Linked DNA regions of Homo sapiens. The protein of the gene in region 1 purifies or fractionates together with the protein of each later gene. This does not show direct contact. Each region holds a gene or a part of one and is shown on either strand. Other genes may lie near its edges.

What was found.
Region 2: the proteins of TSR1 (region 1) and RIOK2 fractionate together in Homo sapiens (co-fractionation; 3 studies listed by BioGRID and IntAct, with this or other methods). This does not show direct contact.
Region 3: the proteins of TSR1 (region 1) and PNO1 purify together in Homo sapiens (affinity purification with mass spectrometry; 2 studies listed by BioGRID and IntAct, with this or other methods). This does not show direct contact.
Region 4: the proteins of TSR1 (region 1) and HSP90B1 fractionate together in Homo sapiens (co-fractionation; one large-scale study listed by BioGRID). This does not show direct contact.
Region 5: the proteins of TSR1 (region 1) and PPP6R3 fractionate together in Homo sapiens (co-fractionation; one large-scale study listed by BioGRID). This does not show direct contact.
Region 6: the proteins of TSR1 (region 1) and PARN purify together in Homo sapiens (affinity purification with mass spectrometry; 2 studies listed by BioGRID and IntAct, with this or other methods). This does not show direct contact.
Region 7: the proteins of TSR1 (region 1) and NUP153 purify together in Homo sapiens (affinity purification with mass spectrometry; 3 studies listed by BioGRID and IntAct, with this or other methods). This does not show direct contact.

The regions. Positions count from the first base shown.
Region 1 is NC_000017.11:2,326,458-2,329,957, forward strand, and holds part of TSR1 (pre-rRNA-processing protein TSR1 homolog), read right to left. Parts: intron 3,019-3,500; coding exon 2,886-3,018; intron 2,754-2,885; exon of another isoform or gene 2,668-2,753; intron 1-2,667. UniProt on the Homo sapiens protein: Required during maturation of the 40S ribosomal subunit in the nucleolus.
Region 2 is NC_000005.10:97,180,448-97,184,507, forward strand, and holds the start of RIOK2 (serine/threonine-protein kinase RIO2), read right to left. Parts: upstream 2,801-4,060; 5' UTR 2,745-2,800; coding exon 2,679-2,744; intron 1-2,678. UniProt on the Homo sapiens protein: Serine/threonine-protein kinase involved in the final steps of cytoplasmic maturation of the 40S ribosomal subunit. Involved in export of the 40S pre-ribosome particles (pre-40S) from the nucleus to the cytoplasm.
Region 3 is NC_000002.12:68,156,570-68,160,687, reverse strand, and holds the start of PNO1 (RNA-binding protein PNO1), read right to left. Parts: upstream 2,801-4,118; 5' UTR 2,754-2,800; coding exon 2,547-2,753; intron 2,309-2,546; coding exon 2,159-2,308; intron 1-2,158. Other genes in the region: DNAAF10 (dynein axonemal assembly factor 10), read left to right, coding at 3,245-3,427. UniProt on the Homo sapiens protein: Part of the small subunit (SSU) processome, first precursor of the small eukaryotic ribosomal subunit.
Region 4 is NC_000012.12:103,929,002-103,933,209, reverse strand, and holds the start of HSP90B1 (endoplasmin precursor), read right to left. Parts: upstream 2,801-4,208; 5' UTR 2,695-2,800; coding exon 2,646-2,694; intron 1,690-2,645; coding exon 1,587-1,689; intron 934-1,586; coding exon 792-933; intron 385-791; coding exon 268-384; intron 1-267.
Region 5 is NC_000011.10:68,596,752-68,600,251, reverse strand, and holds part of PPP6R3 (serine/threonine-protein phosphatase 6 regulatory subunit 3), read right to left. Parts: intron 1-3,500.
Region 6 is NC_000016.10:14,620,261-14,623,760, forward strand, and holds part of PARN (poly(A)-specific ribonuclease PARN), read right to left. Parts: intron 1-3,500. UniProt on the Homo sapiens protein: 3'-exoribonuclease that has a preference for poly(A) tails of mRNAs, thereby efficiently degrading poly(A) tails.
Region 7 is NC_000006.12:17,617,232-17,619,925, forward strand, and holds part of NUP153 (nuclear pore complex protein Nup153), read right to left. Parts: intron 1-2,694. UniProt on the Homo sapiens protein: Component of the nuclear pore complex (NPC), a complex required for the trafficking across the nuclear envelope. Functions as a scaffolding element in the nuclear phase of the NPC essential for normal nucleocytoplasmic transport of proteins and mRNAs.

The DNA.
Region 1 (3,500 bases):
TTACCCAACTATGAGCCATACCCAGCCTCCATTCCTTCACCCACACTGCCCTTGGCACACTAGACATCAAAGTTTCCACACTTTATCACACCCTTTTAAATTCTGAGAGACAGTGTCTCACTCTGCTATCTAGGCTAGACTGTATTTGGTGTTCTACCTTCAATGTAGCCCTCACCCCCCTTTTAAAAATACTAAACTTATAGGAAAATAAAATATTTTAAGGGCTGTGGTGTGAACACAGCTCACTGGAGCCTCAAACTCCTGGGCCCACTGGCTCAGGCAATCCCTCTTGCCTCAGCCTCCCAAGTAGCTGGGACTGCAAAGCACATGCCACCACACCTGGCTAATTAAAAAGAAAAATTTTTGGCCGGGCGCAGTGGCTCATGCCTGTAATCCCAGCACTTTGGGAGGCCAATGCGGGTGGATCACCTGAGGTCGGGAGTTTGAGACCAGCCTGGCCAAGATGGTGAAACTCTATCTCTACTAATAATAGAAAAATTAGCTAGGCATGGTGGTACACGCCTGTAATCCCAGCTGCTTGGGAGGCTGAGGCAGGAGAATCACTTGAACCTAGGAGGCAGAGGTTGCAGTGAGCCAAGATCCTGCCACTGCACTCCAGCCTGGGCAACAAGAGTGAAACTCCATCTCCCAAAAAAAAAAATTTTTTTTTCGTAGAGGCCGGGCATGTTGGCTCATCCCTATAAATCCCAGCACTTTGGGAGGCCAAGGCACGTGGATCACCTGAGGTCAAGAGTTTGAGAACAGACTGGCCAACTTGGTGAAACCCCATCTCTACTAAAAATACAAAAAGTAGCTGGGCGTGGTGGCAGACACCTATGGTCCGAGCTACTTGGGAGGCTGAGGCGCCAGAATCACTTGAACCTGGGACGGGGAGGCTGCAATGAGCTGAGATCATGTTACTGCACTCCAGCCTTGGTGACAGAGTTGGACTCTATATCAAAAAAAAAAAAAAAAAAATTGTAGAGACCGGAGTCTCACACTCCTGACCTCAAGCGATCCTCCTGCCTCAGTCTCTGCAACTGAGACTTTTATTTAGTTCCAGTTCTAAGGATCTGCCTTTACAAAATAAGCAAAGAAGTAAATAAAGTTTTATGCATACAGATCTAGTTTAGAGCAAAACATTAGAAATAGCCTAAGTGCTCACCCGTAGAAGCTCAAATAAGTATCAGTACATCACATACACTGGAATATATCCAAATGACAATAAAGCATTAAAAGTCTCATTAACTAATTAATCTTATGGAAAATTGATCAAAATCAATTAAGTGATAAATGCAATGTTTAACACCATATTTACAATTACAATCCAAATTGTGTAAAGAAAAAAAATGAGATCTGGATGAAAATGTATAAAATAAAAATGAATTTTCTCTAATATAAGGTAATTTTACTTTTACATTATTCCTTATTTTCCCAACTGTATAAAATATGAAAATAGTTCATCCTAAAAAAAAAAATCAAAACCATTTTGAAACAATAAAAGAATGACTGGCCAGGCGCAGTGGCTCACGCCTGTAATCCCAGCACTTTGGAAGGCCAAGGCAGGAGGATCGCCTAAGGTCGAGACCAGCCTGGCCAGCATGGTGAAACCCCGTCTCTACTAAAAATACAAAAATTAGCTAGGCGTGGTGGCGGGTGCCTGTAATCTCAGCTACTCGGGAAGCTGAGGCAGGAAAACTGATTGAACCTGGAAGGCAGAGGTTGCAGTGAGCCTGGATTGCACCATTGCACTCCAGTTGAGCATCAGAGTGAGACTCGGTCTCAAAAAAAAAAAAAAAAAAAAAGAGGCCAGGCACATTGGCTCATGTCTGTAATCCCAGCACTTTGGGAGACCGAGGTGGGCGGATCACCTGAGACCAGGAGTTCAAAACCAGCCTGAACTCCTGGTCTTGGTGAAACCCCATCTCTACTAAACCCCAACATGGTGAAACCCCATCTCTACTAAAAATACAAAAATTAGCTGGGCATGGTCGTGCATGCCTGTAGTCCCAACTACTCTACTCGGGAGGCTGAGGCAGGAGAATTGCTTGAACCCGGGAGGCGGAGGTTGCAGTGAGCCGAGATCACGCTATTGCACTCCAGCCTGGGCAACGGAGTAAGACTCCGTCTCCAAAAAAACAAACAAACAAACAAACAAAAAAAAACAAAAAAAACAAGAGGGGGCGCGGTGGCTCACACCTGTAATCCCAGCACTTTGGGAGGCTGAGGCGGGCGGCTCACGAGGTCAGGAGATAGAGACCATCCTGGCTAACACGGTGAAACCCCGTCTCTACTAAAAATACAAAAAATTAGCTGGGCATGGTGGCGGGCGCCTGTAGTCCCAGCTACTTGGGAGGCTGAGGCAGGAAAATGGTGTAAGTAAACCTGAGAGGCGGAGCTTGCAGTGAGCCTAGATCGCGCCACTGCACTCCAGCCTGGGCGACAGAGTGAGACTCCGTCTCAAAAAAAAAAAAAAAAAAAAAAAAAAAACAGAAACAAAAACAAGATTAAATCTTACCTTTTTTGGTCTTCAATTCCCCGTTCTAATGCCACAAGTGTTGGGATTACAGGTGTGAACCACTGCACCACTGCACCCACCCTAATACCCTTTTTATAAAGCTGCCAACTTCTATTCAAAACCTGCTATGGAACAAATACTCATGGCAAAAAAGCCTCAGTATCACACAGAAGTTGCATCACTGGGATGCTTCAGACAGGTTCAGACATTTTGAATAAAAACATCATTGGCTCTTAAGCCAGAGTACTGAAAATACCTCTAACCCAGAGATGTAAGATTTTGAAACCATATATTTTGGCACCCCTCCACCACAAGTCACTTTCCCAAAAGACAAGATGGACAAGAACCCAGCTTCCCCATTGCTAACCTGCAGTGTGCTGAGAGAATAAAGGTGAGGCTCGGAAGCGCCTGAATCCACAGTGAAATATGAGCTCTTCCTTGGCTTTCACAGGTTCAGTGTTGCCAGGGTCACGCCTCACCACCATATTCAATACTGACATCTGGGGACCAAGTAAGAAAAACAAAAATCTTCATAGTCTAGGAATACAATTGCCTAAACTGAAAGAAGGCAAACCAAACTAGCAGATTCAGACTCATTCTAAGAACTGACAATGCTAATTAATGGTGGAGTGTAGATGCTGAAACACGGGTTCATCCTTTACCTCCACCAATGACTGGCATTTAAGCCAAACACAGGCTGATCAGAGCTTTCATGCACCCTTCAATGCTAACCTACCTTCCTGCACCTAACAGAAAAGAGCTCAACATCTGCCACACAAAAATCAGTGGCCTTCAAGGCATTCACTCACCACAATCTCAAAACCACACTCATTCAAGCCCCTTCTTCTTGAGCCCTTACCAAAACCGATCAAAGAACTATCACATACCCCACAACATACACAACTACTGGCCACCAAGAGAAAAGAGATCTGCACTTTGGCATAAACTTTTTTTTTTTTTGACATAAGAGTTTCGCTCTTGT
Region 2 (4,060 bases), on another chromosome or scaffold:
AGTACAGTAGCAGCTCAGATGGGATAGCATATAGAATTCATGCAAACGCGGCTGGAAGATACTTCTAGGATAGAGAAGGCATTAAAATGTAGACCAAATACTTTTATATTTTATCCTGATGAGAGCAGGAAGCTCTTGAAGATGTTTAGGCGTGGGAGACACACGAACAGGGTTATTTTAAGGACATTAATGTACCAGGAATATGCAAATTGGCTTAGAGATGGCAAAATCTGAGGGGGTACTCCGGAGAACTAAGACAGAAGTCCAGCTCAGAGGAAAGAGCCACCAGAACAGGGTAAGTGGTAGTGGTACTGGAAGGAAGGAATAAAAATCTTTAGGAAGTATTATGGGAGAGCTTGGCAATTAGATGTGGAAGGGTAAAGGGAACGGAAAGCCACAATTGGAAGTGATGAGGAAAAGCAAGTTTTAAGATTTTATTATTTTTTTTTTTTATAGAGCTTGGGAAAAGAGAAAGGGGGTAGAAAAAAATTGAATTTGGTTTGAGCACTGAGAGTCAAATAAAAATGTTTAAAGGAAAACTGGAGGCCAGGTGCAGTGGCTCACACCTGTAATCCCAGCACTTTGGGAGGCCAAGGTGGGTGGATCACGAGGTCAAGAGATCGAGACCATTCTGGCCAACATGGTGAAACCCCATCTCTACTAAAAATACAAAAATTAGCTGGGCGTGGTGGTGTGCGCCTATAGTCCCAGCTACTTGGGAGGCTGAGGCAGGAGAATCGCTTGAACCCAGAAGGTGAAGGTTGCAGTGAGCTGAGATTGTGCCACTGCACTCCAGCCTGGCAACAGAATAAGACTCCGTCTCAAAAAAAAAAAAAAAAGAAAGAGAGAAAATTAAATAGGAAAGGGGCCTATATTTAGGAATGAAGTTATAATTAGAAGGAAAAATTGTCAATTATTTTATAGAAGTGAGAGTTGAAGATGTGAAGTGGATGCTATCACTGAGCAGGAGATAATGGAAGAAAAGGAATGTTTGGGAGCAGAATTCTGGGGCAAGTTCATATTGAAAGCTAAGGGCAGCTAGTCAAACAATGATTATTGATATAGGAGGAGCCAAAGAAGTAAAAGGGAAGAGAGGCCCAAGAAAGGGTACCAACACTGGTGAGATTCAACTGAGACCGGAATGTCATATTTAATGACTAAGTCATTTCTTGGTGAACTTTACAAATAATTTAAATATTGCAGCGCCAATGTTTTGGAAGATAAATCTGGCATCATTTTGATGTCTCACCAAAACCTTAACTTTTAAATTTAACTTATTTTCCATGCTTTGTCTCTGCCTCCCCCGTCCTCTAACACTCTTACTTTTGACCCCTACTTCTGTCAGAGACACTAAGGAATGAGTGTGCTGAGAAAGCAGGAAAGGAAGGTATCTTTCCGAAGTGATAGTAGGTTTTCATAGAGAAAGTCCAGCTGATTAGAAGAATCTACATGAGAGGCAAAGTAAACATTGTCTTCCAAATTTCACACTGATTTTGCATTTGATAGTTTAATACTTAAGCGCTATTTAAGATTAATTTTAAAAATCCAAAACTTGAAGCCTTAACATAATGCAAGAACCAGTGTGACTCACATCGCATATCCTATTACATAATTACACAATATAGGTAGTCCTTATCATGGGGTTCACTCCTTACCAAAAGATAACGGCTCCTAAATAAATGTACAAATGTCTTGATCTATATATTAATTTCTGTGCCATAAGACTGAGGCCATAAAATCAGATTTTGTTACTCCCCTGATTAAAAACATTTAGTGGTTACCCCCACATTCTTTACCAAACCTCCAAGGCTCTGTAGTACATAATTTCTCACCTTTTCCGCTACATCTCCAACCATTAGTGTGCATCTCACTTTGCTCCAGCCACATTACATTGGCCTTTCCTCTCTTCAAAGACTTTTCTGTCTCAAGGCCTTTGCACTTACTACTGCTGTTTCCTCTGCCTCCAACTCTTTCCAAGGACTTCACTGGGCTGTCTCTTTCTCACACAGCTCCTATTATTCCCCCATTCATTCTTTCATTTAGTGAATATTTATTGATTGTCTACCAAAGGCCAATAACTTGTGCCCCTCCTCTCCACCAGATACATATACTTTCTATGCCATTATCCTTTATCATTTTCATAGCATTTATCCATTATCCTATTTTTCGTTTACTTGATGATCTGTGTCTCTCTCTCCACTTGTCTGTTTGAACAAGTGAACCTCCTAATGTTGCTACTAAAAAACCGACAAATATGTGTTGACTGAATGAATCAGAAAGACTGCTATGCGACTGAGTCTGTTAGTAGGGAAGTCAATATTATCAAATCTCGGGGGGGGGGGGGGGCTTAAACCTTTCACAGCTGGTCGGAAGCTCAGGATCAGAGAAGTTTCCAGGCCACAGAGATGCAAGCGTTTCTCTTCAGCGCAAAGCGAATAGCAGCAGAAAAGAAAACAATTATTAGAAGACGGGACCTTTGCTCTATCTGGGGGAAGGTAAGCTCCCAAACAAAACCTTTTTAAAAATCCGACTTTCTGAATGCTCTCTTCTCCATTCCCAGCTTCTGCCACGTCCCGGGTCCCAGAGTGTGCCTGCTCAGATCCCAGAAAACTTGCAGGAACAGGAAGAGGTCACACAGTGTTAAGGGGAAGGGAGAACAGGAACGGCGGGTTTCTTACCGCGGTCAAGACCCTGAAGTCATCTCGGCTCATGTAACGCAACTTGGCCACATTCACTTTCCCCATGGCGGCCCCAGTCCGAACCCAGATGCCTCTCCGACGACAGCCGCAAAGCGTAAGGCAGGTCGTTATTCCAGCCTCTAAGCGCTTTACAGCGCCAGATGGCTCGCGCACGCGCTGCGTCTTAGTATAGGTCCTTGTTAATAGTTAGAAGTGCTGTTCTCATTGATATAGGAAAATAAAACTACTTGTATGTCTTATGAAACACATAGTATGTAACAAGTGAACGTTTTATTTTTGTGTAATTTTTGCGTTGTGACTGAGTTGGCGGAGTGTAGATATTCTCTACAATGTGCCTTTTTTTTTCCATATCTGTCAGGACTTGCTGCCTCAATGACACGTTCCGCCTCAGAGAGCAAAGTGGTTACTTAATGGGAGGAGCAAATTTTTCCCGCAAACAACTTCTACTCTAGGCAAAGTGACTTCCAACAAGACAGGGGTAAAAGAACCTGAGCTAGAGTCCAGACAACCAAATCTGTTAAAGGTAAAGTGGACTGTAATCACACAAGCACGCCCTCTACTCCTAATTGCGCCTGCTCCGGCAGCTCCGGAGGGCGTGGTTAATGGAACTCATGCGCTTGCTCAGTACTTCTCTTAGGTTGGTCTAGGAGGCTTCGAAGTGCGCCTGCGCTGGTTGGGGTGGGAGTTTAAGGTGACACGTGGAGAGCGCGGCGGACGTCCTTACCTCCAGAGGAAGTGGGGATTTTGATAGTTCGGGCTGACCTACGCGGGTAGGACTTCGAGGGCCCAGGAGCGATTTAAGGATTTTAGAATAGTTACCCATACTGGCTCTGCAACTCCTCGATATTCAAGCCTTTGTCTGCTTTTTACTTGAATGCAGCATGTCTTTGATTAACCATCTTCAACCAATGAACATCTCCATTTAAACGGAATTTTTCTTTCTGTACTTACATAAGAAGGCATAGAAATGAATTTTTTTTTTATTTTTGAGACAGAGCCCGGCTCTGTCACCCAGACTGAAGTACAGGGGCGCGATCTTGGCTCACTGCAACCTCTGCCCTCTAGGTTCAAGGGATTCTTCTCCCTCAGCCTCCTAAGTAGCTGGGATTATAGGCTCACACCACCACGCCCTGCTAATATTTTTATTTTTAGTAGAGATGGGGTTTCGCCCTGTTGACCAGACTGGTTTCAAACTCCTGGCCTCAGGTGATCCGCCCCCCTCAGTCTCCCAAAGTGCTGGGATTACAGGCATAAGCCACCGCGCCTGGGCGAAAAGTTTTTAAAAAAACCAAGTGACTAACTTTATTTGTACAAATTTATGGGGTACGTGAGAAATTTTGTTACAAGTATTTAGGGTGTCT
Region 3 (4,118 bases), on another chromosome or scaffold:
CTGATGACTGTGGCCAAGTTTCCTCACATCTTTAAGATGGGAATATCCTGAAGACTAAATGATGTAGAGCATGGTGTAATACCACTGTGTGTCTGGTATATGGCAGCATCAACAAATGTTAGTGGAATCCAAAGTGATTATCCTGCAATAAATAGGACAATAAAGCACATGAAAAGTTTAGGCACTGAAGATATGACTGAAAAATGGACATACCATAACAGAGAAAGAACTTGAGCTAGACCCGGAAAGATACTGGAACTGAAGTATAAAGAGAAAGGAGTAGGGAGGAGCGGACCTCTTTCAAAGGCCAAAGCCACCAAAAAGTATGGACATAAACAAACTTTATGATCCGTGAGAGACAAACTTGTGACTGAGTCTCCTACTTGAAAAGCAAGTTAAGTCCAAAACTTTTTCCTTTAGAAATGTTGAAGATGCTCACGCCTGTAATCCCAGCACTTTGGGAGGCAGAGGCGGGTAGATCATGAGGTCAGGAGATCAAGACCATCCTGGCTAACACGGTGAAACCCTGTCTCTACTAAAAAATACAAAAAATTAGCCGGGCGTGGTGGTGGGTGCCTGTAGTCCCAGCTACTCAGGAGGCTGAGGCAGGAGAATGGCATGAATCCAGGAGGCGGAGCTTGCAGTGAGCCGAGATTGCGACACTGCACTCCAGCCTGGGCAACGGAGCAAGACTCTATCTCAAAAAAAAAAAAAAAAAAAAAATTTTTTTTTGTTTTTTGAAGATGCCAGGATGTCATAAAAGCATTGTGATCTGGGAAACTTAATCTGGCACTGGCAGATGGATGAGTGGAGAAAGGAGAGACGTCAAACAATGAAGCAAGGGAAACCTACAACGAAACCACTCCTTGGCAGGAAACCATAAAAGCCTGAATGAGAGAATGGCAACAGGGACAAAGAGGAGTTACTCTATCATGTTCTATGATATTTTACACTTTATCAACTATTTAGAATAGTGCCTTTCTTTGTTCCATTATTATATTCCATTAACAGAGATGAGACTATACCAGTCCGGATGATGGTAAAAGAATCCTTAAAAAGGAAAATATAATTAATTTCGGTTATCGATTCTGGTATGAAATTGGCACCCAGAAAAGAAAGCCCAAAGTAAATTTAAATGTCTAATTCCCGGATTGATAGCACAGAATTTAAAATATATACATAGGCTCGGTGGGGCAGCTCACGCCTGTAATCCCAGCACTTTGGGAGGCCGAGATGTGATCACCTGAGGTCAGGAGTTCGAGACTAGCCTGGCCAACATGCTAAAACCCAGTCTCTACTAAAAATACAAAAATTAGCCAGGTTTGGTGGCAGGCACCTGTTAACAGTGAGCCAAGATCATGCCACTCACTCCAGCCTGGGTGAAAGAGCAAAATAAAAAGATATATATACACACACACACACACACACACACATATATATGCATGTTTCTTATCAAAATAATACATTTTTTAATCAAAAGAGCACCATTAAAACACAGTCATGCACTGCATAATGACATTTTGATCAGTGACCAACCGCTCATACCATGGTGGTCTCATAACAGTATAATGGAGAATATACAGAAACCTGATATATGGCACTGGATACCGGCAATGCAGATCAAGTAGATGAAATGACTGATATTCAGTAATGGTGCTGGGACATTTGGTTTTCCATATGAAAAAAATATATAAACAAATATACACATACCATCTAGGTTTGTGTAAGTACACTCTATAATATTCGCACAAGGACTAAGTCATCTGACAAAACATATCCCAGAACATATTCCCGACGCTGACTGTATATACTTCTTGTAAAGCAGCAAGTGCTTATATTCATTATTTACCTGCTTCTGTTTATGGCAATCTCTTTACTCGACCTTTTCTCAATTTGACATAGAACATTATAAAAGATACACAGAAGAAGAGCCAGTATTTTGGTGTGATCTCAGAACTAATTTACAAATTCAATTAATATTTGTATCGAATGCAGATTTTTAAGGCATTTGGGAAGTTCAAACTCAATATGGTAAATTTTTAAACTGGACAAAAACCATACAACAGAAAAGTCCCATTAAGTAAAGCCTATTCATGCCTTTTCATCTCTGTAGGAGAGAAAGCCTGGTGTATTGGGAAATGATTGAGATTTTCCTTACCCTGATTTCTACATTCCTTGATTTCAAGTTAAAGCGTATCTGAAGTCCCAAATGTTCCACAATAGGAGTAAATATCTTCATCCAGTTTTCTTTCAATGGTGTGTATCTGTTAGCTGGGACTGGAATTTTCCTTGTTTCTTCTTTCCCACTCTGTAAATAAAAGAACACACAACTCAGAAGGCTATGGAGGGACGGTGATGGAGTTTAAAATGACATCTGATCCACAAAGGGCCTCCTTTAACTGAACTAGTTACACTTCAAAGAATCACTTCTCTCTGAGCATCACGGCAGAACAGCCCCACCGCAGCTTCAACATTCTCCAGAGGCCATCGGCTTGATCCGCGTCTGGCCCTTGCCTCGTTGCTGTCCTAGGGTCCCAGCCACATACCAGGAGCCCGTCCCCACAGAGGGGTGGGAAGACGGGCCTCTTCGCCGGCCTGGCCTCCTCTGTGTCCATGCGGCCCGCATCCCCGCCCTCTCCTGCTGCGGACAGCTGTTCAGCCTGTCGTTTCTTCGCCCGTCGGCCACCCTTGCGGGTGACCTGGGTAAAGCCCTCCTCTGCCCTGGCGCTCTGCGTTTCCATTTCGGATTCCATCCCCGGAAATCTTAAAGCGCTGCCGGCTGAAACACGTGCGCAGCTGCACCACGCAGAAGCCAGCCTCAGCCAACCACCCCTGCAGCTCCGCCCCTTTCCTAAAACGTCACAGGCCGGGGACCTGCAGGATTTGGGGCCGGTGGGGGGGAAAACGGGGTTAGGCTGTCCTAAGATATGCCTGATGGTCTTGGGCTCACTCCAGCCGCGCAACTCCCAGCCCAAGTATTTTGTAATCTCTAGTATGTATGTGTGCGAAAGGCAGTGGGTAAAGGCGATAAACAAATTCGTGCTGTTGTGAAGGAACATTCTGTGCGATCGCAGGAGCGCATCTGGCATTATCCGGGGATAACTACAGCCAACATGCCAGGGCATCTGGGGCAGAATACGGAAAGCGGGAGGGACAAATTGCCAATGTTTGGAGTCTGGTTTCCAGGTTGCCGTTTTTGGGGGCTCTGGGTGTGGCGGTTGCCGTAGCTGAAATTGGCTGCACCATGTCGGCCTTCGAGAAGCCTCAGATCATCGCCCATATCCAGAAGGGCTTCAACTACACGGTGTTTGACTGTAAGTGGGTGCCCTGCAGCGCCAAATTTGTGACCATGGGCAACTTCGCACGGGGCACCGGCGTCATTCAGCTGTACGAGATCCAGCACGGGGACCTGAAGCTGCTTCGGGAGGTGGGTGCCGGGTCGAGGATCCGGACTGCCGTTGGGGGCGAGTGCGGATCCTGGGGTCTGCATTCCTCTTTGCCAGAGCCTTCGCCCAGCGTCCCCCAAAGCATGGCTTGAGCCGCGCGAGACCAGAGAAGCTGACCGCCGACTGAGGAATGTTTCCTATTTAAAACCTTTCTTCTCATCCGCGGGGTAGTTCCTCCGCGCCCAACCGTCCTGCCACCCCCAGTGCAGTCCAGCCAAAGCGGGCACCAGGATGCCTGCAGTGTGGTTGGAAGAGGCAACCTAACACATTCGACAGGCATCAGCTGAGTGCCTGGTATTCCCAGGGATGTGAATGGTAATGTCCCCCATCTCATGGAGTTTATTTTCTAGTGGGAGAGATACTCAGTTCAATAATCAAAGCAACGATACATAAATACAAACCGAGATGAGTTGTCTCACACAAAGGAACACGGTTACGGTTCAATGAGAGTGAAAACAGATTTGGGATGAATGAAAACAGATTTTGGTATGTGCAGAAGCTAACTAGGTCAAACTAGGAGTAAAGGACAAGGTTTCCAGGGCTTCTGCACATGCAGAAGCTCAGTGATGGGAAGAAGTTTATCTCCTTAAGAAACTAGAGGGATAAGCAGGAACCAGACATTGCAAGATCTGTAGGACATTCAAAGGATTTATGCCTTTTTTCTAAGAAAAA
Region 4 (4,208 bases), on another chromosome or scaffold:
TGTTCTCTGTTAAAACAACTTGACTCTGCTGTTGAAGCACAGAAGCAGTCACAGATAATAAACAAATGGGCATGGCTGCATTCCAATAAAACTACTTAGAAAAACAAGTCAAGTTAGATTTGGCCATAGTTTGATGACTTTCAAGCCACTGAGACTTGGGGTTTTTTTGCCACTGCAAAATAATCTAGCCTATCTTGACTGATAGGGATCCTCTACCTTTAAGGATTCCTTTTCCTTTAAAAGAAAGAAAAACTGCCTTACACTTACCTTAATTTTGACTGTTAGTTCCTCATTTCCAGAAAGAGCATTTTCATCAGTCAGTGATATTAGCCTTATCTTATCTAAAGCATCAGAAGCATTTGAAATCAGTTCTCTCAGGAAAATCTAAATGGAAGCCAGAGGGAATACACTTAGACTATCCTCAAGATGCATTAAGATATTCGATTTTATGCCAAACCCATTTATTTCTTCTCTGTACCTTATAAAAGCACTCTTATTCACCTAACAGTGATCTTCAGGTATGCAATGCAAGAAGTTTAGTTTATGTGACTGCCCTTAGACTCACAACTATTATCAGGCCGTGAACCTATTTAGAGGTAAAGGAAAAGGAAAATGTCTGACACTCCCTTTCTTCCCAGATATCTGGTAGCAATTCTTGGACATATTAGGTATTTAAAGGTTGTTACCTACTTACTTGGATACTACATTACTTTTGCAGTAAATTAAGCAAATTTAAGTAAACAAGTATGCCACCATACAGAGATAAAATATTCTAACCACATGTTGCTTACCTCTTTATTTTTATACAATGAATTGATGATAAGTTTCATCATTCTGTTAACTTCGGCTTGGAAGGCAAACTTTTCCGACTTCTCTCTAAGTTCTCTTATTTGTGATGCATTTAATCCATCCAACTGAATAGCTTCTTCCTCTCTAAGGAAATCAGTTAGGTAAGCAAATATTGCATGGCATAGTTCCCTTCAAAACTAGAGGAATTATGATGAAAGCACAGGGGCCTCTGAATATTGTCTTGGGGGTTAAAATGGAAACCTTTATAAAATATAACTGATATACCGTCTCATTATGTTAGCACAGCAGTAGGCTACCTTTAACATTACACTGGAAATACTCGGTTCTTAAAATTGCCAGAAAAAAAAAAATCCCAACTTTCCTCTACTAAAAAGCAAAGTCATACTCATTTATGCTCCACAGTGAGGACTTCAAAACTGTCAATAAGTCCCAAGAGGCCAAATTTTAAAATATTGTTCAACTGACAGAAATCCCATTTTTAAACTTACTCGGTGTACACAGTTAATGAATACAAATCCAACTGAAAGTATCTTCTATAAAGTCTTACAAAGTTTATGGTGCTAGTATTCTGCAATATAGTTTTCAAAGGAATTCACTCAGTTTTCATCACTCCTAGGGACAAGTTAGGAGGTATGTATGCACACAACTCACCGGGTATTTAAATACAGGGTGTTAGACTTTATCTGGACCTTTGGAGAAGAGATACATAAGAAGTGACCGTAACTCACAAGGTTCACACGGCTTATCTGTATACGTAAGTTCAAATGAACACAAACCTCTGTACTACTTCATCATCCGTCCTTGATCCTTCTCTACTTTTACCCAGATCCTCTTCTACTGTACCATCCACATCAACTTCATCGTCAGCTCTGACCGACCCTGAAGATTTAACACGGGCAAACTCTTCAACATCACACTTCTCCAAGGAGGATGATCAAATAGGGAAGGGTAGGGGTTGCAAAATTCAGTTGGTAACTAAGGGAGGTGGGGATGAAAGAGTGCATTCCCTGGTTTAAATACCAAAGGTAAAGCCAAGACAGAACATCTATTTAAGTTCAGATGCTGAAGTCTCCAGTAGATCCTGAAATACGGAGGCAGTCACCACTTCTAAACAGTGTGTCTCCGATCATTTATAAATAACGTTAAGCAGACTGATACCAGGCCTCTTCTACACCCACACGTGTTGCGCGCAGGCCGAGCCAAGGCCTCCCAACTGATCAAGCCAAAACTTCGGCCTTCGTTAGCACAGGTCAGAATGCAAATAGGATTTATGCAACCTCTGGCGAGGGGAACTGAAATTGAGCCCAGAGGCATGAGAAGGGGGAGAAATGTTAAGAACCGAACTCCAGCAAAACTGAATCAAACACGCTGACACTGCCATTCCGCTGGCCCCAGGCCTCACGCTCCCGAGGCCAGCATCTAAGAAGGGACACGGGCTTGCGAGGAGTCGGAGTCTGGGGAATTAGGGGACGGGAAAGCTGGGATGGCCGAAGGTTGCGGTGGCCGAAAAAGTCCTCCGGGCGGGGAGGGGGGAGGGACTCGCACAGCTCCCGGGGGAGCCAGAGCCTCAGAGAGGCCCCACCCCGAGGTCGCTGAGACCTCCGGGCGAGATACTATTAGATCTGTAGGGCAGTTAGATGATGTTGCTCTCTTTTTTTATTTCCAGAGGAAGAAGAGAATAAACGTAATTCCCTTGCCCTCTTTCGAGGAATGGTGACGTCCCTTGGCCCACCGCAGGCCCCGGGATCCCCCCTCCCACGTTCAACGCCCCCAGGACCTTCGAGAAGCGGCCGCGTGTGTGGAGGGGGGACGTCTGCTCCTCCAGAATCACTCACCGAAGGTCAGCAGGACGCAGCAGAGGCCCAGCACCCACAGGGCCCTCATGGCGTGCGGCCGGTGAGTCTCAAGTCCCCTTCGATCGCAGGAGCCGCCTCCACCCCCCACCCCTGGGTTCGGATCCTCACACCTCCAGCCGCGCGGTCCGCCCACTACACCGCAAGCAGGTCGGGCCGCTTTTCACCCCCACTTCCCGCGGGCGGGGGACGGGAAACATGAACCCACCAATCGCGCCGCACCACGCACCCACGGCACCCAATGAGGATTCGTGAGGGGGGGCGGAAGTCCACCAATCGGAGCTGTCCAGGTGCGGTGACCGATGCCCGAAGCGTGGCTCCTTCCGATTGGTCAGGGTTTGCAGCTTTTCTCCAATCAAATGGCTCCGCGGGCCCCTCACACGTGGGACCGCCCCTTTGCCTGGGCGGCCTTGGCCTCTAAGGGAAAACGTCCAATGAATGTAAGCAGAGAACACATCCATCCTTTTAGAGAGGTCGCGGCGGAACTACTTCCGGATCCTAGAGAGCGTTTATTCCGTGACCGGGGAAACGGTAGCCATGGCAACGTGTTCTTCACCCTTTCCCATCTATGCCTGGGGTTTCGTTGGAAGTGATTCCAGCACGACTTTCGCGGCCAGCTTTCTCGTGTGGCGGCGCTTCTCGGAAAGAAGAAACACACGAGAGAGGTTGCAAATCCCCTAGAACCCTTTCAGATGGCGGGGGGGCGGGGGGGTGGCGGTGGTGAGAAACTACAGCTCCCGGCATGCAACGTCCTAGGGGTTCACTGCATTGAATGCTGGGGGTCGTAGTCTTTGGTCTCTGAGGACCAGCTGCGTAGTTTTGGCCCTTTCTTTCACGTTCCCCCAGCGTGTCTTTGCCAGAGCCCTGCCCTGCGTCTTAGATGTTACATCTCGTTCTGATTACAGTAGAGATATGTGCCTATTCCAGGAGTCTCCATTGTACACAGCTTTTAGAAGCGGGCCTAGAAAGCCTTCATGCCTCGGGCAAGGCCGCCCGGTTCTGGGGGGTCGGTCTGAGTCTGGGGGCTCCGCCTCCGGCTCAAGAGCACGAGTTTCCGAATCCGCCTACAAGTGCGTCACTTGGGCAGCCGGAGCGTTCACCTCCTCTGTGCCTTTCCGCGGCCGGAATCCCCAGGCCTTCCTTATCTGGTTTACAGAAGAACGTGGTTGGGACCTTCCCGACCACCTTAGGGAAATCGCGAGCAGCGCTGAGGCCTTCGACTCCCCAATAAAGTACAAAGGCGGCGGTGACCTGACGGTCGTAGAACCCTTTCTGTGAATCAGGTGGAGAGCGTGGTCGTAAAAGCGGGTCTAGCACAGAAAAGGAAAACCCTTAGTTTAACGAGTGCAGGAGGATGCACCTGCAGATATTTGAAAGCAAAACCTGTGGTGCTGCACATGAGAACGGGATTGCAGCTTTGTAACTTCATAGAAATACCCTGTCTGTGCTCAGAAGGACATATAAAACACCAGGTGTCTTTCCTGTGAGGGAAGTCCCTCATGCTAAACTTGTGCCTTTGGAAATATTTTCTACGTCTCTTTAACC
Region 5 (3,500 bases), on another chromosome or scaffold:
ACTGGAGCTGTGGGAGAAAGACACTCTCACCAATGAGGGCAGGAGCGGACAGGGCACAGCCACCTGGAGGGCACTCTAACAATGATCCCACATTCTCAAACCTCCCATTTCTTTTTATTATTATTTTTTTGAGATGGAGTCTCGCTCTGTCGCCCAGGCTGGAGTGCAGTGGCACGATCTCCGCTCACTGCAAGCTCCGCCTCCCGGGTTCACGCCATTCTCCTGCCTCAGCCTCCTGAGTAGCTGGGATTACTGGCACCCGCCATCACGCCTGGCTAATTTTTTGTATTTTTAGTAGAGACAGGTTTCACTGTGTTAGCCAGGATGGTCTCAATATCCCGACCTCGTGAACCGCCCGCCTTGGCCTCCCAAAGTGCTGGGATTACAGGCGTGAGCCACCGCGCCTGGCCTCAAACCTCCCATTTCTAACAACTGTTCCAAAAGAAATACTACACAGAGATTCAAAGCTACATGCACAAAGAGGGATTAATGTTAATTTCTTAGTTTTGACAAATGTACCATGGCTGTATTCATACTTGGGGAAGCTAAGTGAAGGATATATGGAGACTTACTATCTTGGCAATGTTTCTATAAATCTAAATTATTCAAAAGTAAAAAGGTTATTTTTCTAAAAAAAGAACATGTTGATTATTCAACTCCAATAAACTAGAAATAACCTTAATGCTTCCCAGTCCGGGTCTGACTGCACTTCGCCCATTCTGCGGGCTCCCTGCAGTGCACTGCAGTTAGGCTTCCTAAGTCCTGCAGAACCAGGTCTGGCCTCAGAGGCTGAAGCGGCAGGACTTGCTTGAGCACACTTACGGTCTGTGGGGCTCTTCTTACTATGCTGCCTGCTGGCCAAGTTTGGGTCTAATCTGCAGGTCTCTCCTTAAATGTCACCTCCTCAGACATGTGTCCCTTCTGATGAAGTCAGGTCACTGTGGATCTGCTCTAACTGCACACCATGCTTTTCCTTCACAGAGTGCTGAATCCTCAATTCTTTGCTGGGGACAAGCCAGATGTGGGAACCACTGCATTCCATCAGGGATATTATCATAATTAGGAATCTCTAGGTTGCAGGAAGGAATGCTAGGGAAACTGGTATAAGTTATTTAAGGGCTTAACCCAGACACAAGTGACTAAGATTAAGAAGTACCCGTGTAGAATAGAAATGTTCTGAGTTTAAAGACAGACTTGACTGTGACTTTCCCCAAGATATCTGACTTCATCTGTTTGATTTCATAATGACTATTCACTTAGCAAAGATCACAGGAGGGCCTGCACAGAGTAGGCATTTAATTAGGGTGCGCTCCATGCTTCTTGCCCACCTACCTGTGTGAGTGTCACAGGGCTCCACTGACACCAAGAAGGAATAAATGCTTGAATGTTTGAAAATCTCACCTGAAACCTCCAAAAAGTCAACTTGACAGTTATTTTTGCCTGCCCACTCTATGCAAAGCTCTGGAATCATTCTATCTGAGTTCTACTCTACAACTAAATTATATTACACACAAATGACTTTTCTGTTATCTCTTTGAGATAGTCTTTCCCAGATGAGCTCCTCAGAGTCCGTGTAACATTTTAAATGATTCTGAATGTCCACAAAACCTCCAACAGAAGCCACAGAGACTGGTGGAATGGCAGAGGCTCTCTGGGGCAACCCTGTAGCCCTGAAGCCCTGAGAGAGAATCTTCCCCAACCCTACCCACTTGTGTCTCCAGAGATCTGAAGATGCAAAAGCTGTCTTTCCCAAGGAACAGAGAAGCAGGAGGCCTGGTTCCCTGCCACACTTAACCCCGGGAGGTAGGTAAACGCGAACCTCATCCAGGGTGCTCGCCTCCTCGCTGCTTATCCCTACACCCAGGCCCACAGTCACAGCAGCAGCGGCACGCAGTCCAGCCAAGTGTGTTTCCCTCCCTGTCACTTAACCATACCCAGCCTGCTAAAAGAACCAAAGATTCCAGAATGTCATTCGGCCTTCGAACAAAAGGAAATCCTGTATACACCACAGCAGGGATGAACTCTGAAGACATTATGCTAAGGGAAACAAGCCAGTCACAAAGATAAATACTGTATGATTCCATTTATATGAGATCCCTAGACTAGTCAACCCCAGAGAAACAGAGAGTAGAATGGAGGCTGCTAGGGACTGGGGAAGTAGAAATGAGGAATTGTTTAATGGGTACAGAGTTTTAGTTTAGGATGAAAAAGTTTTAAAGACCTGTTACACAACAGTGTGAATATACTACTGAACTGTACTTTTTTTTTTTCCCCAGATGGAGTCTCACTCTGTCGCCCAGGCTGGAGTGCACAGCATGATCTTGGCTCACTGTAAGCTCCATCTCCCAGGTTCAAGCGATTCTCCTGCTTCAGCCTCCCGAGTAGCTGGGACTATGGGTGTATGCCACCATGCCCAGCTTTTTTTTTTTTTTTTCAGTAGAGACAGGGTTTCACCCTGTTGGCCAGGGTGGTCTCGAACTCCTGGCCTCAAGTGATCCGCCTGACTCGGCCTCCAGAAAGTGCTGGGATTACAGGCCTGAGCCACTGCACCCAACCTTGAACTGTACATTAAAAAAACCAACAACAACAACAACAAACCCTACAGATTCCAGAGCCAACAGATCAGGGCATCTGCCCTGTCTCCTCCTCACACCTCCCTGCTGCCTGGAGCCCATCTTGCAGTTCTCATTATTTCTCATGTGTAACAGTTCAATGTCTTCATGGTTCTCCTGTCTCTACCATGCGTTTTCTCGTCCATTTTTCACTGTTGCCATGAATGTCTTGAAACAGAACCAATAATGATCTTCTTAGTCAAATCCTCAAGGGCTCCCTACAACCTTCAGAATACAACTCCTGATCTGGCCTCTGGCCTTCGCTCCCGCCACCTCATCCCCGAGCCATGCAAAACAGCACGTTCTGGGCATTTGGATTAGCTGTTTTCTCTCTCGCACGGGCAAATCCCTACGGGTCCTTCAGCCTCATACCCACCTGCCTCTACAAAGAGGCCTAATGGAAGGCTCCCCTCTTCTAGCACCCTGTACCCATTCCCCTGCACTGCCCATCTGCTTCCCCAGCCGACCCCAAGCCCCTGGAGGCAGAGTCTGTGGCCCGTTCACAGTTACAGGCCTAACACCTGGCATACAGTAGGAACTTGACAAAGGCATGTTGACTGAAACTGAATTACGGACAGAAAAGTCCACTTCCTCCTCCTGAGGGTGGGCTGGAAAACAGGCAGCAGAAAGAAGATCTCTCTTCTTCTCCCATCCCGTTTCCTTATCTGCAACATGTGGCAGTTTGCTGGATGACTGATCTGGTCCCATCTAGCTCTGAAGTCACCACAAGGTCCACCCTAGCTGGGCTTCAGCCTCTGGGATGAACATAAAAAAGGCCTTGCAGGGCAATCAGAGACTGGCCAGGCTTGGGGCAAGCCTCGCTATCAGCCCATATGGCTCCTTCACATGAACGTTTGTTTCCCAAACCTTTAGAAGTTTTTGAAGTAT
Region 6 (3,500 bases), on another chromosome or scaffold:
CAGCTACTCGGGAGGCTGAGGCAGGAGAATGGTGTGAACCAGGGAGGCGGAGCTTGCAGTGAGCTGAGTTTGTGCCACTGCACTCCAGCCTGGGCGACAGAGCGAGACTCCATCTCAAAAACAAAAAACAAAAAACACTGTATTAAGTGAACAATACTATAGATGAAACACAAGCACGGCAAAATTATGGAGTTCATACTCAAATGAACTTAAGAAATAAGCATTACTGTAGCTACTCTAATTTTATTCTTGGCCAAGTCAGAACATCAGCAGGCTACACATCTGAATCATTTTCATCTGGTCCCTTTCCTGCACTGTACTTTGACATTATGCCATCAGTCTAGATTGAAGGACATGGTAACAAACAGTTCCATTAAACTTATCACAGTACTGACTTCAGAGATGTGATTGAAGATCAGGTTTTCTACAGTAATCATTTACTTATAATTCAAGGGTAAATGTTCTGAGGTCTCTATTCTGGGGAAAGCTATACTAATCCTGAGTTCTGGATTGTCCTAATCCTATGGACCACGGAATGACTGTGTTTCCCTCTTTTCTTTGCTACTAGGAAGCTCAGGGACAAACAAATTACACTTTCTTTGGCACAAATTCTGTGTTCTATTCATACCATAGTGATTGTATCATTTTTCTTTTCTTTCAAATTTTCATTTACTAATTTTTTAATCTTATGTTAAAAGGTAAATACCGTATATATCTTTAATAACCAAAACAAATCGTTTTGAAATGGTGAGATATAAAAAGACAATCTGAACACAGAAAAACACACAAACAAATAGAAGCACATGCAAATCACTTCCATCGTGTCCAGGCTTTTATACTTTACAACAAGCAATCTTTCCCTACCCCCACTTCTTTTTTAATCCTGTCCTGAACCAAGAACCAAGACTCAATGTATTTTGATTGGTCTGTGGGCTTCTGTCTACCATGGCTGGAGTGTTCTTATAACTCTGCCCACCTAAACATTCCATCTCTGACAAAGGCACTGAAACACAAACTGTGGAAGGCATTTTTGTCCTTCTAGTACTAGACACCAAAACATCCTACTTTCCTTTATCCCACTGAATTCAAAGTCAGAGTCATCTATGCCTTTCCTGAAGCTGCTTATTTTCTAATCAAAACAACACTCTTTGGGTTGTACAATAGTGTCAATGTACTTAATGCCACTGAGCTATACATTTAAATACGGTTAGAATAGTAAAATTTATGTTACATATATTTTACCACAATTTTTAAGAAAACCTCTGAACTTGGCCAGACACGGTGGCTCACGCCTGTAATCCGAGCACTTTGGGAGGCGAGGCAGGCAGATCACGAGGTCAAGAGATCAAGACTATCCTGGCTAATACGGTGAAAACCCTGTCTCTACTAAAAATACAAAAAATTAGCTGGGCATGGTGGCAGCGCCTGTAGTCCCAGCTACTTGGGAGGCTGAGGCAGGAGAATGGCGTGAACACGGGAGGCAGAGCTTGCAGTGAGCCAAGATCGTGCCACTGCACTCCAGCCTGGGCGACAGGGGCTTCGTCTCAAAAAAAAAAAAAAAAACCTTTGAACTAACAAAACCTTTTGGAGTTTACTAGCCACTACCTTTGATTTGTCATAAATGTAACATGTTCAAGATTGAAGAGATGAGGCTGGGAGCAGTGTCTCACGCCTGTAATTCCAGCACTTTGGGAGGCCAAGGCGGGTGGATCACTTGAGGTCAGGAATTCGTGACCAGACTGGCCAACATGGTGAAACTCTGTCCCTACTAAAAATACAAAAATTAGCCAGGCATGGTGGCACGCATCTGTAGACCCAACTACTTGGGAGGCTGAGGCAGAAGAATCACTTGAACTCGGGAGGTGGAGGTTACAGTGAGCCAAGATAGTGCCACTGCACTCCAGCCTGGGTGACAGAGTGAGACTCCGTCTCAAAAAAAATAAAAAGATTCAAGACATGAGAACAGATATTTGGGAGGACAATTTGAGACATCCATCAAAACTTTAAATGCATATATCCTATGTCTCAACAACTCTCCTTCTAGGAAATCTACAATACAAAAAAATTCTTACACATACAAAAAGATATACTGAACACAGATGTTGACTATAGAATTGCTGATAACCACTGGAAAGCCTCCAAATTTCAATTAACTGATCAAACAAATTATACGTATCCATACTACGAAATAAAAGACATTCTGCTGAGTGGCAAGTGCGAGTTGCATAAAATGTGAAATTAGGATTCCATATATATATATTTGAGACGGAGTCTCGCTCTGTCACCCAGGCTGGAGCGCAGTGGCGCGATCTTGGCTCAGTGCAAGCTCTGCCTCTCGGGTTCACACCATTCTCCTGCCTCAGCCTCCCGAGTAGCTGGGACTACAGGCGCCCGCCCCCACGCCTGGCTAATTTTTTTTGTATTTTTAGTAGAGACGGGGTTTCACCGTGTTAGCCAGGATGGTCTTAATCTCCTGACCTCGTGATCCGCCCGACTTGGCCTCCCAAAGTGCTGGGATTACAGGAGTGAGTCACCACACCCGGCCCATTTTTTACAATGTAAGCCTGGCGCAGTGGTACGTGCTTGTAATCCCAGCACTTTGGGAAGCCAAAGTGGGCAGATCGCTTGAGCCCAGGAGTTCAAGACGAGCCAAGGCAACATGGTAAAACCTTGGCTCTACAAAAAATACAAAAATTAGCTGGGCATGGTGGCATGTGCCTGTAGTTCCAGCTACTGAGGAGGCTAAGGCAGGAGGATCACTTGAGCTGGTGAGGTCAAGGCTGCAGTGAGCCATGACAACATCACTGCACTCTAGCCTTGGTGACAGAGACTCTGTCTCCAAAAAAAAAAAAAAGCTAATATGTATGTGTGTCTAGGCATATGTCTATATGTATACATGTACATAAAAGCTAGGAAAAAAGGAGTAAAATGGGAAGGAAGTGGCATGGGAAAAGGATATAAGAAGGGAAACACAGCCAGGCACCATGGCTAATACCTGTAATCCCAGCACTTTGGGAGGCCGAGGTGGGCAGATCACGAGGTCAAGAGATCGAGACCATCCTGGCCAACATGGTGAAACCCCGTCTCTACTAAAAATACAAAAATTAGCTGGGCGTGTTAGCACATGTTTGTAGTCCCAGCCACTCCAGAGGCTCAGGCAGGAGGATCGCTTGAACCCAGGAGGTGGAGGTCGTGGTGAGCCAAGATCGCACCACTGCACTCCAGCCTGGAAACAGAGCAAAACCCCATCTCAAAAACAAAAAAAAAGAAAAGAAAAAAAAAAGAAACACATCTGGCCAGGCGCGATGGCTCACGTCTATAATCCCAGCACACTGGAAGGCCAAGGCGGGTGGATCACCTGAGGTCAGGAGTTTGAGACCAGCCTGACCAATATGGTGAAACGCTGTCCCCATTAAAAATACAAAAATTAGCAGGGCGTGGTGGCAGGTGCCTGTAGTCCCAGATACTCAGGAGGCTGAGACAAGAGAATTGCTTGAACC
Region 7 (2,694 bases), on another chromosome or scaffold:
ACTTATGGTTAAAGACAGTGAAATCAACAAATACACTTAGCTCTATCTTCTTTGAAAAGTGCATTAAAACAACAAGGGATTTTTACAAAGATATAGGTTTAGAAGCTGGAAGGCTGACTAGAGTTGATACTAAACGAGCAGTAGGGAAAGAACAGAAGCAATTGCATTTACACCAAACATACCCAAAATGTTTAGGTTCCAGATACCTATGGAAGTGAGGATGTAGTGGGAATTAAAAAAAAAAAAAAAAAAAAAGGATGGCAGAGTATGTTTAGAAGCAGATACCCAGAATCAATCCCTCCCAACACCAACACAAAGATGGTAATTATCAGTGGGTGCAGTGACTCATGCGTATAATCCTAGCACTTTGGGAGGCCAAGGCAGGTGGACTGCTTGAGCCCAGGAGTTTGAGAACAACCTAGGCAACATGGCGAGATCCTATCTCTATAAAAAATTTTTCAAAATTAGCCAGGCGTAGTGGCGTGCACCTGTAATCCCAGCTACTCAGGAGGCTGAGGTGGGAAGATCTTCTGAGCCTAGGAGGTCGAGGACGCAGTGTGCCCTGACTCTGCCACTGCCTTCCAGCCTGGGAAACAGAGTGAGACCCTATCTCAGAAGGAAAAGAAAAAAAAAGAAAAAAAAGATGGTAATTCTCCTCTTCCACCGCACCAGAACAGAAGTTTAGTGTTTTAGTCTTTGTAGAAGTGTCTGGACTGGGAGACACCACATACAGTTAAGGGCAAGAATATCATTTTGAAAACAGGAATTAAGTGTAGCTCGATATTCACAAAATACCGAGCGCTCCAGCCATCTTCCCAATCTTAGCTCCCAGAACACTGGCAAATGAAGTTCTCTGATACCCTCCATGCAGGAGACTGGATGCATCTTCTTTGGGGTATCTGACAGACTAAGTGAAAAGAATGAAGGATACTAACATCCAAACTTTCCCAAGTAAAATAATGCTAGATAAACCAGATAAATCTACAATGAAATTCAAGATCTGTAAGCCCTATCAATGTAGAAAGGATTTAAGTGGTATTTACGTGTCCTACACTCATAACAACTACAGGTAGCCAAGGAGTACCAGGCATTTGAGGACAGTATTTAATAAGAAACACTGAGACAAAAATAATAAAAGCAATTTTGGGAAAACTGACTCAGCAAAGAAACAAAATTTTAAGGAGAAAAATCTGAACTCCATATCTTTAATGAATACTTCATCCACTGGAGAGTTGGGTGGGGGGGAACCCAGAGGGGCATAAAAAGGAAACATCCAGAAAATAAAAAAGAATACTTAGAAATTAAAGAAATAGTGGAAGTTAAAATCTCTCTTTTTTTTTTTTTTTTTTTTAAAGATGGAGTCTGGCTCTGTTGCCCAGGCTGGAGTGCAGTGGCACGGTCTCAGCTCACTGCAAGCTCCACCTCCCGAGTTCACGCCATTCTCCTGCCTCAGTCTCCTGAGTAGCTGGGACTACAGGCGCCCGCCACCACGCCTGGCTAATTTTTTGTATTTCTTAGTAGAGATGGGGTTTCACCGTGTTAGCCAGGATGGTCTCGATATCCTGACCTCGTGATCTGCCCGCCTTGGCCTCCCAAAGTGCTGGGATTACAGGCGTGAGCCACTGCGCCCAGCAGAAGTTAAAATCTCAACAGAATGGTAATGAAAGATAAATCTGAGAAAGTATGACACAAAGACAAAAGGTAAGAAGGAAAGGAAGGATTAGGGGACAAAATCTTCAAATAAATAATTCAGGAAAATTCCCCAAAATGGAAGTTCACAAAAGAGCATGCTGCACTCCCTACACAAACGATAAAAACAAACCCACATCAAGACACATCCTGATGTATCAGAACAATGGAGGCAAAAGAGGAGAGTCTAACAATTCCAGAAAGAAGAAACAGGCCAAAGAGCAAAGATCAAGACTTCAGGCAACTCTGGAAGCCAGAAAAGTCTACAATGGAGAAATGCTTTCAAAATTATAAAAATGATTTCCAATCTACATCTATATTCAATCAAAATCTTACCAAACATGGGGAGAGAATAAAGATCCCTGCAGAGATGTATGGCCTCAATGTTTTCCATCCCTGAACCCTCAAGAATCACTGGAAGATGTGCTGTATCAGAAAATAGGGGAGTAACAGGAAAGACATGACACCCAGGAAACGGGTTCCTCTACGAAGCTAAAAGGAATCTCCAAAAGAATGGTAAAAAGAGGTTTCCCAAGAGCACAGTTAAACAGCAAGCCAAGAAAGCCTGGTAGGAGGAACAGGTTAAAAGACCCTGTGAGAAAAGTTCTTTCAGTGCTTACTTCAGCAGCACATACCCAAAACTTGAACAAAGAAGATTAGCATGGCCCCCTGCACAAGGATGACACCCAAATTTGTGAAGTGTTCTATATTTTTAAACTAAAAACTGATGAAAGAAATTAAAGAGAACACAAACAAATGTAAAGACATCCTATATTCATGGATCAGAAGAACTATTATTGTTAAAATGGCCATACTACTCAAAGCAATCTATGGATTCAATGCAATCCCTACCAAAAATACCAATGACATTCTCCATAGAAATAGAAACATATCCGGCCAGGCGCTGTGGCTCACACCTATAATCCTAGCAGTTTGGGAGGCCGAGGCGGGCAGATCACCTGAGGTCAGGAGTTCGAGACCAGCGTGGCCAACATGGCAAAACCC